Linked DNA regions of Homo sapiens: regions 2, 3 and 4 are each reported to be linked to region 1. Evidence: microRNA targets listed by miRTarBase, many of them from high-throughput screens and not tested one by one. Region 1 holds a microRNA gene; each other region holds the end of a gene's coding sequence. Distances are from middle to middle.
The links. Region 1 holds the annotated microRNA hsa-miR-548aa (AAAAACCACAAUUACUUUUGCACCA, at 1,511-1,535, shown strand). A microRNA usually pairs through its seed, bases 2 to 8, with sites in the 3' UTR of a target mRNA and lowers its output. Matches are read on the target gene's strand: a 7mer-m8 pairs with bases 2 to 8, a 7mer-A1 pairs with bases 2 to 7 and ends in A, and an 8mer does both.

Region 2: the mRNA of FBLN2 is a reported target of hsa-miR-548aa. Seed matches in the 3' UTR shown: 7mer-m8 at 410-416.
Region 3: miRTarBase lists ANKEF1 as a target of hsa-miR-548aa. Seed matches in the 3' UTR shown: 7mer-m8 at 2,035-2,041 and 7mer-m8 at 1,009-1,015.
Region 4: miRTarBase lists HNRNPD as a target of hsa-miR-548aa. Seed matches in the 3' UTR shown: 7mer-m8 at 2,084-2,090 and 7mer-A1 at 2,665-2,671.

What each region holds. Positions count from the first base shown.
Region 1 is chr4:173,266,695-173,269,777 of GRCh38, forward strand. MIR548T (microRNA 548t) reads left to right here and starts at 1,466; the gene lies at 1,466-1,539. All of the region lies in intron 2 of GALNT7 (polypeptide N-acetylgalactosaminyltransferase 7), which reads left to right. It overlaps LOC124900812 (a long non-coding RNA gene), which reads right to left. Exons shown (of 3, transcript XR_007058367.1): 2 at 1-3,083.
Region 2 is chr3:13,637,587-13,640,660 of GRCh38, forward strand. It overlaps FBLN2 (fibulin 2), which reads left to right. Exons shown (of 18, transcript NM_001004019.2): 18 at 1-818. The coding sequence ends at 333. Among named protein-coding and RNA genes, the nearest start is that of LINC00620, 12 kb to the right of the region's middle.
Region 3 is chr20:10,055,312-10,058,394 of GRCh38, reverse strand. ANKEF1 (ankyrin repeat and EF-hand domain containing 1) reads right to left here. Exons shown (of 11, transcript NM_022096.6): 11 at 92-2,893. The coding sequence ends at 2,735. The region is part of intron 3 of SNAP25-AS1 (SNAP25 antisense RNA 1); the gene reads left to right. Among named protein-coding and RNA genes, the nearest start is that of ANKEF1, 22 kb to the right of the region's middle.
Region 4 is chr4:82,352,860-82,355,942 of GRCh38, reverse strand. HNRNPD (heterogeneous nuclear ribonucleoprotein D) reads left to right here. Exons shown (of 9, transcript NM_031370.3): 8 at 542-639; 9 at 1,789-3,083. The coding sequence ends at 609. Among named protein-coding and RNA genes, the nearest start is that of HNRNPD, 20 kb to the left of the region's middle.

The DNA of each region.
Region 1 (3,083 bases):
AAAATAATAAAATCCTGCCATTTTCGGCAACATGGATGAGCATGGGGGACATTATGTTAAAAATAAGCCAGGCACCGAAAGACAAGTATTGCATGTTCTCACTCACGTGGAAGCTAAAAAATTTGATCTCATGGAGGTAGAGAGTATAATGACGGCTACCTGAGGCTGGGAAGGGTGTGTGTGTGTGTGTGTGTGTGTGTGTGTGTGTGTGTGTGTGTGTGTGTGTGTGTGTGGAGGGCTGGGATGTGGGATAAAGAGGGGTTGGCTAATGGCTATAAACATACAGTTAGCTGGAAGGAATAAGTTCTAATGGTCAATAGGACAGCAGGTGACCATAGTTAACAACAATGTATTGTGTATTTCAAAAGGGCTAGAAAAGAATATTTGGGATGTTCCCAACACAAAGAAATGATAAATGTTTGAGGTGGTGCATATCCTAAATACCCTGCTTTGATCATTACCCATTATATGCATGTATCCATATATCACATGTATCCCATAAATAGGTACTATTATCATATATTAATTTTTAAAAGCCACCTTAGTATGGCCTAGAAGTAGAGGATCAGTGTTGAGGGTATGGGCAAAATTTACCATTGTACCATGCCTGTCACTTAGATCACCCTCCAGCCTGGCCCCTGAAACGCGTACCTGAATGCTAGGGAGATACACTGAAAGAGCATTCCATTAAAATGCCTGTCAAACTGAAGGATGGCAAATTTCTGTACTTGAGGGTTTGTGGACACCCATAGGCAGATTACCAGCCAGTGGCTTCTGCAGCGCCAGGAAACCATGCCTGGGCACAGACCAGCAAATGTCATCAGCAATGGCCATTCCTTAGAATAGGCACAGCAGGGGGACCAGCTTCACAGGACCAGGGGCCCCTTTGCAGCAGAGTCTTCACCTCAGCAAGCAGAGCTCACAGAAAATGAGGGGTGCTGCATGGTATCCGAGAGTGCCAAGTTCATAAATACACATGAGGTTCACTTTGGGAATCCCATACAGAGCTGAAAGAGTGATGAGCATGATATTGAGCATTTAGGGAGCTTTGGTTTCCTCTTCTAGCAATTGTGGATAATAATACTTGGCTTGTAAAGTTATTGTGGGTAACAAATGTGCTAAAGGACATAAAAGGCATATCACACATGAGCTCCACCGGTTGGAGGTCACAGTTGTTGGAGGCCACCTTCATCCCTTGTGTGGCATAGAGAAGCTTCAGAAGCTCTTTTTTCTGTATAGGCCTCTCATCATGCCAGGTGTGTGGTATTCAGCCTTATCTTTAAAATATGGTACCCTCTTCATTGTATTTCATCCTGCCGTCTTACTACAAAAGAGGAGGAGTCCTAAAGGAAGTTAGTAAATACAAAGAAGTTCTTAAGGTCAACCTAAGATAAAGAAATGCTTGCTTGTAAGTGCTGGGTGATTGAATCTATAATTTGCGTCAAGAGAAGTGAAGAAAAATGTTAGGGTGGTGCAAAAGTGATCGTGGTTTTTGCAATTTTTTAATGACAAAAACCACAATTACTTTTGCACCAACCTAACCTTGTTTTAGGCATGTATCTATTTAAAGACACTTTATTTTACCTATAACGTTGATGGGTTTACATTGAACTCAGGGCCAATAGCACTGTAACTCGCACCCAAACAAAGCTTGTCTCACGTGGATTTTCTGCACAGGACACAGCACAGCATCTTTGTGCTTAGGATACCAGGTAGCACACTGACATTATTCTCGGGAGGCTGTTTTAAACAGCAAAATTACCAACTAAAAGCACAAAAATGAGAAAATCTGTGGCACCAAACAAACTGCAAATAGGACACTTGTTTTCTCTCTCGTTTTTTTTTTTTTTTTTTTTTTTTTTTGAGATGGAGTCTCGCTCTGTAGCCCAGGCGTGGCGCCATCTTGGCTCACAGCAAGCTCTGCCTCCCAGGTTCACGCCATTCTCCTGCCTCAGCCTCCCGAGTAGCTGGGACTACAGGCGTCCACCACCACGCCCAGCTAATTTTTTTTTTTTTTTGTATTTTTAGTAGAGATGGGGTTTCACCGTGTTAGCCAGGATGGTCTCAATCTCCTGACCTCTTGATCCGCCCTTCTTGGCCTCCCAAAGTGCTGGGATTACAGGCGTGAGCCACCGCACCCGGACACTTGTTTACTCTATGAGCAGAAACAAGAAACAGAACATCCTCGTGTGCATGCCCATCAGGCATCTCCAATTGCAATCCACATTTGTGGACGTAGAATCCACAAATAATAAGGAGCCACTGAATTTTTGTATATTTAGTATGGGGCTCAGGTTAATCACAGAAATATTTACTATATAGTTAGTGGGCAAAATGCCCAGTACCCCATTATAATAAACCCAAATCTCAGTAACAGTGAAGATGTTTCTCAGAGGGGCATGGCTCCTCTGATGTTTGTCAGATAAGCATGTCTTATTATAGGGGCACTCAGACAACAGAGGCACAGAACAAAACAAAATATTTTTTGTCTGTTAATTTATTTCAAAAATGAAATCTGATAATGGCTTTTAGAAATGTGAAGACCAAAAAGCATCAAATTTTGTTTTTCCATTTAAGGAATAGAAATAAAGTGGCCGAGTTATTATTATATGTTCCGCCCATAATTCATCTTTCCTTGCTCCTTCCCACCCCTCCCCACTTTATCTTCCACCTCCTTTTATAGATACCTAACTGCTAAAATGGGCTTGGGAAGGCAGCTGGAATCATGCCAAGGTGTACCCAACAGAAGCTGCTGCAGTTAGTGACATGAGCTATGGAACACAGGAGGTCTTTTGCACTGATTGGAATATTTATTAGATTTAGTGCTGAAATAGTCTCTGCTGATAAGCAGACCTAATCTGAATTTCAAAGGTCCTTATGACCACGTAAATGTGATAGTATCATATCCTCAGGCCCCAAGTGCATCACCTTTCCTAAATGGTTGGATGCTGTATTGAATCTATTTAATATCCTGGTAACTAGCTTTGACTTTTTTCAGGAATACTTAATAATTTTAGATTTAATCTTCCCTCCTCCTCCTCCTCCTCAACAGAAGTAATTTAAATTCTTTCCAAGTAGTCATT
Region 2 (3,074 bases), not on the chromosome of region 1:
GACTTCCTGGAGTGCCAGAACTCGCCAGCGCGCATCACGCACTACCAGCTCAACTTCCAGACGGGCCTCCTGGTGCCTGCGCATATCTTCCGCATTGGCCCCGCGCCAGCCTTCACGGGGGACACCATCGCCCTGAACATCATCAAGGGCAATGAGGAGGGCTACTTTGGCACGCGCAGGCTCAATGCCTACACGGGTGTGGTCTACCTGCAGCGGGCCGTGCTGGAGCCCCGGGACTTTGCCCTGGACGTGGAGATGAAGCTCTGGAGGCAGGGCTCCGTCACCACCTTCCTGGCCAAGATGCACATCTTCTTCACCACCTTTGCCCTGTGAGGTGCCAGCACGGGCCACCTGCGGGTGTGGCGCAGCCCAGGGCTCACACTGCGTGGGAGGGACTGGGTCACTATTGTGGTTTTTACTATAACTTTGTAAATTAACTTAATTTTGCTGACTTGACTCCTGTGGCTTCTGGACCCCTCCTCTGCCCCGCAGGAGGAAGTTCCACGGCAGGTGGTGCGTTCCCACGCAGGCACCAAGTGGAAGCTTGCACGGTGGGCCACGGCCGTGGCGGGTGCCCTGTGGGTGAGGCTGGGTGATGACCTGAGGACCAGAGACACGCGACCATGTTGGGGCTCTTGGACTCCTCTGGATGACCCGTCCCCAAAGTTGACATTCCATTTCATGTTCCACTGTGATTAATTCTTTTCTTTTTTAAAAAATCATTTTAAAGTTTTTTGTTTAACTATAAAGTAGTACATGTACATTATATAAAAAAAAGTTCAACTAGTATGAAAGGGTTATAAAGTAACAGAGGAAAACGCCTCTTGGTCCCTTTACTTTTGTAAAGTGTTCAGAGTTTGACAACGTTGTCCAGATGTCACAGGGCTCTATGGCCTGGCCAGCATGTCAATTCATTGATGAAGACCTTGATGTCCTTCTCAACGAGCCCCGAACCTGAAGTTCACTTTGGGATGAGGGCACCCCAGTGTGATCAGTCACTGACCAGGCTCTTTATTCTGCTTTTACCACTTCAGCTTTCCCTCCTCCTTCCTCCTCCCTCCTCCCTCCTCTGCCTTCCCCCCATGAAGACCTCCACTGATGGCCTGTCACTTGGATGTTGTCCAGAACTTGTCCTGGCCCCTGTTGCTGAGCTGTCAGGTCAGGCAGTAGACCTGGGCAGGAGCCTGAAGGAACCTGGGAAACTGAGGCCCTGAGAGCGGAAGCGATGTGCCCCCAGCCCACAGCGAGCATCAGAGCAGGTGTCGGGACCCAGCTCTGATGACCCTGCTCGGGCTCCGTGGGTCTAGAGTTAAATATAGGGGGCGGCAGCCAGCACTTTTAAAATGACGTAGAATAGAGCAGATGAGATATGAGTGCTTCACACCCTGTAAAGAGAAGAACTGCTTCACCAAACCACAGTACATGGGGCGTGTGCACCTATGCGTGGGCACGCTAGCTCTGGCTTTTGGTAGAAAGTGTTTCTCACTGTGGGTGGAGGGAAGCAGGCCTGTCGGGGCGCGCTGGGCAGCACATGCCCTGTGTGAAGGGGGCGCCTACACTTGGCTCCAGCAAGGCCGCCTTCTGGGCGCGTGGCCCGGGATGGCCAGATGTTCTCATTCCTCAACACAAACTCTCTCAGTGTTAAGAGGTGGCGACTTGCTCAGGCTTCTAAAGGACAGGTGTTTGGGAGCCTCTTGCCGGAAGCCTGCGGTGGGGGCCCTCTGTCCCTGCTCCTCGCCGGCCCCCATCCCCAAGGGTGCAGCAGAAGCCAGGTCTTCCCTGTCCCTGTCCGGGCTGTCTCTGTTCCTTCTATTTTGCTGATTTTCAGAAAAACTAGATCCGGCACCTTTGTGGTGCACAGTCCCCACCAGCGGGAACCAGTAGGTGACAGGCTCCATTCAACAGGACAGGCAGGTTAGGGACACCCCTGGCTGGCAGCAGCCGTTCCTGCTCCTACCCAGCCCCGGTTACTCCTTCTGGGACCTCAGGCAAGTGACTTCGCCTCCCCTCACTGGTCTCCCCTGTGAACAGGGGCTCCAGCTGTTCTTCCTGCACAGGCCATCGAGCCAGTAAAATGAACTTGGCACCCAGCGCATCCATACGGAGGGTCTTGGAGAACAACTTCTCTCCGGACCTTAGAGTTTCTAAGGTGATTCTAGAATTCCATGCCGGCAAGTTTGGCAAACTGCAGCTTCAGGGAATAGCCCCTACAAGACTACCCTCACTGCAGACCAAGAACTGCACACCAGAAACAAGCTCAGGCATCCCTAGGACCACCCTCACGTCTGAGCAATGGGCTACAGGTTTGGGGGTCCTTACATCCACCCTCAGGCTCATTAATTCACCTGCATGACTCAGACAGTTTATGGTGAAAGGAAGCAGGTTAAAGTCATTGATGAATTCTAGAGCAGAGTCCAGGAGAGCCCAGTCACGGAGCTCCCGTGTCCTCAGGATGCAGCACAACAGAATAGAGCTGAACAGGGCACCTTTGGGGTCCAGGTGTGTCTGGGAGCTTGACCACCTGGCTGTCAGCGTGGCTGGCCCTAAGTCTCCAGTCCCTCGCAGAGGTCAGAACTGAGGCAGCAAAGCCCCTGAAAACGCTGGTACTCCAGTGCCAGCCAGGACGTTCTGGGGGCCGAGAGCTCACCCTGCAGGCCACCCCCGGCCCCGGCCCCAGCGTTCTCGCAGTGGAATAGTCACGTTTGTCTGGGCAGCTCCTTCAGCGTTGCCTGCTTCCTCCCTTGTGGCAGGGCTGCCCGTGCCTATGAAGCATGTAAAGAACCACCGTGTGCAGGCGTTAGCCCGGGGTTGGCTCCACCTAGCTCTTCCGCAGGTGTCATTCTCCATCGTTGCTACATCCTGAGGAGGCTGGAACTCAGGGTTTCAATACATTTGCCATCACCATCAACGTTATAACCTTATCAACCGTGCCAGGTAGGACCATATTGCAGTCTGGTGGATGTCACCTAAAAAGGAAGACCGGAGTCCCACTCAGTCATAGCAGTTTATCTAGTCCATCACCACATCAGATCAGCAGATGTCCCCCAGGGTGAGGCCACTCAGGTTTGCAGGCT
Region 3 (3,083 bases), not on the chromosome of region 1:
CATGTATAAGTTTTGCCTCCCAAAAAACTTAGATACTAATAACTTACTGTTGACCAAAAGCCTTACCCATAGCATAATCAATTAACACGTATTTTGTATGTTATAAATACTGTATTTGTGCAATAAAGTAAGCTTGAGAAAAGACAACAATTGAACTCAACACAATAGCAACAGGAGGTGGCTATGAAATTATTACAGTTGTACAGTATGTACTACAGTTAATTTTATGCAGTTATGATTTATTACTGCAGCTTTACTTTTATTTACATTTCTCTCAACTGCAAATGCAGTTAAAGTTTATATCAGGTATCAACATCATGTGCCTCCTGATATGATGTACTGAGAAGGGTGCAATGACATCTGTAGCACTGCTGCCCCAAAAGCATCACCTGAATCTATTCTTGAAGACATTTAAGACAAACCAAAGTTGAGAGACATTTTACAAGATAAAAGTGGCTTGTGTTCTTCTTATATACTGTCATAAACAAACAAACAAACAAACAAACAAGAAATACAGGTTGTTCTAAACTAAAAGAGACTAAAGAGATGGGGCAAGCGAATGTATTTCATGACCTGGGAGTACAAAGGAAATTATTGGGATAAATAGCAAAATCTGAATAAGGTCTATAGATTAAATAGTTCACTTAAGTGTTAATTTCCTTAGTTTGCCAATGGTAATATTGTTATGCAAAAGAACATCGTGATTTTAGGAAATACACAATGAAATATTTAAAACATCATGTCTTCAACTGACACACAAATATGAAAACATCATGTGAAGAACATCATGTCTTCATCATGTCTTCAACGGACACACAGATAGTTCGGGGACAAAAATTAAACATACATATGCATATATGTAGAGGGAGAAAGAGATAGAGCAAATGTGGTAAGTGGTTAACATTTAGGTAATCTGGGTAAAGGGCATATAAGAATTCTTTGTCAAATTATTGCAACTTTTCCATAAATATGAAATTATGTCAAAACAAAAAGAAAAGAGAGAACAAAAAAACCAACCAAAACCTTACAAAACAGACAAAATTTAGTTGTAATAGCAAATCTTGGGATCCAAATGCAATGCTTGTAAGCAACCCCTGTTCAGGTCTGTCTCCTCCAGAGGGGTGGGCCTGGTTACCTGCTTCATTCTCTCTCTTCCCTTCTCCTCCCTAACTGGCTCCTGTGGAAGGTCCCTCCAAGGTTGGAAAGAGAGGGAGGAGGTTAGAGGAAAGGGGTTTAATCCATACGTGACTGACAGAGCTGTAATCTGCAATTGGTGCCTTCTGGTAAGGCAGATTCTAAAGTGGCTTCTTTCTGTCAATGAGACGTTGGATATTTTTGGAGCTCCTGTTCGGTACCCACTGCATTTCTTGGTGTGAATAATGCCTCAGCTAGCTTTTTACTGCAGAGTACACCTCCAGAGATGGTCAGTTTTATGACTCAACTTGGCTAGGTTGTAGCACCCAGTAACTCAATCAAATACTAATCTTAGGTGTTGTGGTGAAGGAATTGTGTACATGCAACCAATATTTACAATTCATTGACTTTATGTAAAGGAGACTGCTTTAGATAATCTAGGTGAAACTGATCCCATCAGTCGCTTTAACAACAGTTGAAATTTTCACAATCGTAATCTGGTTAGGTAAATGGATGCCTTTTATTTTAGGAAAGACATACTGAAGTATTTAGGTGTATGAACAAAACTGAGGTTTCCATGATGAAGAAGAAATTCCACTTGTGGACTTCAGGGACAGCTCCTGCATGTTTCCAGCCTGCACTTCCTGATAGCCTACCCTACAAATTTAGCACTTAACCATCTGGGGCCCAAAATTATGTAAACCAATTATTTGCAATAAATCTCTATCTATCTATCTATCTATCTATCTATCTATCTATCTATCATCTATCTATCTATCTATCATCTATCTATCTATCATCTATATATCTGTCTATCTGCCTTTCTAGCTAGCTAGATACCTAGCTGTCAGGTTGGAGCAAAAGTAATTGCGGTTTTTGCTGCAATTAAAGGTTATGGCAAAAACCACAATTACTTTTGCACCAACCTAATAGCTATCTATCTAGGGCTAGGGCTATCTATCTAGGGCTAGGGCTATCGATCTAGGGCTGTTAAAAGTGTATTCAACCCAAGGTATCTAATACACATAGTTTATAATGGCATGTGAGAAATAAACTCCTTCCTTAAAAGATTAAATATTACTTCTTTTTCCAAAACCTAAATTGTTTCATCAATTTCCACTAGAAATGTATCTTCAATAAGCAGGCTGGGCACAGTAGCTCATGCCTATAATCCCAGCACTTTCGACGGCCAAGTTGGGAGGACTGCCTGAGCTCAAGAGTTCGAGACCAGCTGGGGCAATATAGTGAGACTCTGTCTCTATTTAATAAATAAAAAGGATAATTAAAAAAATAATAAGCATAATGGTGTAGACCTGGTAAATCTTTTGACAGCAACGTTTATAACCCACATGCCATGTATTTCACTACATTCATAAAGGGGCTTGGGGATTTATCCAGAATGACATACCATTCATTTCAAAATAACATACATCTTTTCTCTAGACAGCTAAGAATATTTATAGTTGTTAAAGCAAAAAGAAATTCTTGGTAACAAGTTCTTGGTGTATGGATTGCTTTGGCTTTGATGGAAATATCTACTTTCTCCAAAGATTGGTCCCTGGGCCTCAAAGCATTTACCCCAAGAAATAACTGCTATGACTTAGGTCTTCAAGGCAGCTTCCAGTGCTCGAGCTTTCTCTGTGATGTTCTTCTGAAAAGGCATCATAAAATCGTCGAAGTCCACCTCATGTGTAAACCTCTCTCGCCGTAGTTCCCTCTTCCTGATCAGCTCTGCTGTTGTGGCTTCAGGACTCCAAATCTTAAAAAGAAAAATAGCCATACCCCAGCAGGTATGAGTATGACAGCCAGTAAATATGCTAATATCCAGACAATTTTCAATACACAGTTTTAACTTAAAAATTTGTTTATAGTTTTAACTTAAAACTATTAAATTTACTTTTAGATGTGTTTTAACTTCTTCCCCCCCTCTCATATGACACTAGTGGTTG
Region 4 (3,083 bases), 91 Mb from region 1:
TGCATTGGTTGCATTGTTTTAAGTGGTTTTTCTTTTCCTTCCTTGGTTAGACCAGTTCTTGGAGTTATATCCTTTCTTAGGTGACTAGGCCTGCTGCACAATAATAGGTTAATTAAAGTCAGAAGAAGGTCAGCAAAGATGGATTGGGTGAGATTGGGGCCCTTTTCTTAGAAGGGCAGAGATACTAAGCACTGATTGTGGTTGACAATTTGTTCTAAATTTTAAGATATTTTTTGCTGGTGGTTGTGAAAGGGTCAGCTGTCCATCCTTTGAAACTTAAAACTTTTAAACTGTAAGGGTGAGGGGATTGTCTCCCATTTTATACAATAAGTCAAGTAATCAGCTCATTCTGAATGCCTGCCATTGTATGCATTCACTACATATTTGGTAAATTATTTGATAAATGATTGCTCAGGGTGAATTTTTCACACTTGGGAATTAAGCTACCCTTAATTTTTTGAGATTGTTTAAAATTAGGTACTGTTCTGATTATTAGTATGTAACCACTACCGTTCTGGTTCTAACACTTGTTTTATTTTAGACCAGCAGAGTGGTTATGGGAAGGTATCCAGGCGAGGTGGTCATCAAAATAGCTACAAACCATACTAAATTATTCCATTTGCAACTTATCCCCAACAGGTATGTTCTAAAAATAGTTTTTTTTTGTCATTTACAATAGTAGTTTTTATAATCTATATTGTTCATAAAACAATGCTTAATTTAAGAGTTTCACAGCACCCAGAAGTGCTTACCATATTATAACATAGTGACTTTCAAAGATATGTAACACAGGTGCTCTTAAGCTTTTGCCTTTTTGTCCTATTATTAACAAGTCAGTAAAGTTAACAGGTAAAGTACTGCTAATGGGTACAAATTAAGGAATTGCAGCAAAAAAGTATTGCCTACTAACTCTGACATTATACCTTGTTTGTACCCGCCAGCGGGAACTTCATTGCAGGCCCTGTGTCGCGCTGACTTCACGATTCTCACAGGCCCGCTCAATGCGGACAGGGTACGAGATGCTCACGCTCTCGAATGCTGCCGTTTGGTATGGTCTCTTCCAACATCCTGTATCAGCATTATAAAATAAAATGGATACTTCAAGCTTTGCCTTCACTTATTTCTTTGCTTTTTAAAAACTATTTGTAATGTAATTTTAATGCATTTTTTACAGGCCCAGTAATGGTTAAATACGTCAGCTTACTGAATAATTTTAACTATTTATTCTTCTAAGGATACAGCTTGTCTCTGGATTTTCCAGTCTTAATTTTATATTTTATTAATCTATTTTAATGCTTGCTTTTCCCATTTATAGACGTTGTAGCAGTAATTGCAAGAAGTTCTTGAGCTGAATTCCTGTTGTGACAACTTCCTATAATTACAGTAGATAACTTTTTCTTTTAGTCGTATATAACTTTTCTATAACTTGTGATGGACAAGAGATATGCTTATCCAATAAAATAAGCTTAAATATTAGATGCTCTTGGGTCAAAATGTCCTTTTACCAAATTGACCTTTTTATGAGTTCTTTGGGTAAATACTTTAAAGCTTTTTATATTTTAAAGAATACTTGTAAAAGCATATCACATCTTAAACCAGTGGTGCACATGTGGATTTACAGCTCATGGACTCTACTGTTCAGCTTTAATTTATAAAACATATCACACATTTAATGTTATACAGTATTTACATATAGTGGAACATAGGGATAACTCAGTTTTATGTAAATTTTTGTTAAGTGTTGTAGCCTGCCCAGAGTGACTTCTATTTTTTCTTCTTTGTCTCCAGGTGGTGAAGCAGTATTTTCCAATTTGAAGATTCATTTGAAGGTGGCTCCTGCCACCTGCTAATAGCAGTTCAAACTAAATTTTTTGTATCAAGTCCCTGAATGGAAGTATGACGTTGGGTCCCTCTGAAGTTTAATTCTGAGTTCTCATTAAAAGAAATTTGCTTTCATTGTTTTATTTCTTAATTGCTATGCTTCAGAATCAATTTGTGTTTTATGCCCTTTCCCCCAGTATTGTAGAGCAAGTCTTGTGTTAAAAGCCCAGTGTGACAGTGTCATGATGTAGTAGTGTCTTACTGGTTTTTTAATAAATCCTTTTGTATAAAAATGTATTGGCTCTTTTATCATCAGAATAGGAAAAATTGTCATGGATTCAAGTTATTAAAAGCATAAGTTTGGAAGACAGGCTTGCCGAAATTGAGGACATGATTAAAATTGCAGTGAAGTTTGAAATGTTTTTAGCAAAATCTAATTTTTGCCATAATGTGTCCTCCCTGTCCAAATTGGGAATGACTTAATGTCAATTTGTTTGTTGGTTGTTTTAATAATACTTCCTTATGTAGCCATTAAGATTTATATGAATATTTTCCCAAATGCCCAGTTTTTGCTTAATATGTATTGTGCTTTTTAGAACAAATCTGGATAAATGTGCAAAAGTACCCCTTTGCACAGATAGTTAATGTTTTATGCTTCCATTAAATAAAAAGGACTTAAAATCTGTTAATTATAATAGAAATGCGGCTAGTTCAGAGAGATTTTTAGAGCTGTGGTGGACTTCATAGATGAATTCAAGTGTTGAGGGAGGATTAAAGAAATATATACCGTGTTTATGTGTGTGTGCTTATTTGTTTGAATGATTTTATTTTCCATTTCTCAAAGGTTTTATTTTTTTGGTTAGGGCCTTAAAATTTCAGGACTGTGATTATTAGTATGTGTGCCTAAGGAACTTTTTGAGTCACTCTTAAGAAAGTGAAACTGAAGAGTCTAAGTGATAACTATAGGATTAAGTCAGAATTGTTTTTCCTGTCATTTGTTGGAAGCTTCTTGAGTTCTGTTATTAGCATTCAGGGAATTGATACCCATCAACTTGAATGGAAAATCGTTTGTAGGTATTACTTAAGTGAATGTTAAGAGTTCCACCCTGAGTGGTAATCTAAGGCTGTGCAGTCAGTTACTTCAGACTGCTCAGAATAGTTCATTAGAAAGGTAACAAATGAGAAATGTATTATTATACAGTTCTATAGTAGTGAAGTGATGGAATACCTTTCTTACTTTTGTGGAGTTACATCTGATGCTA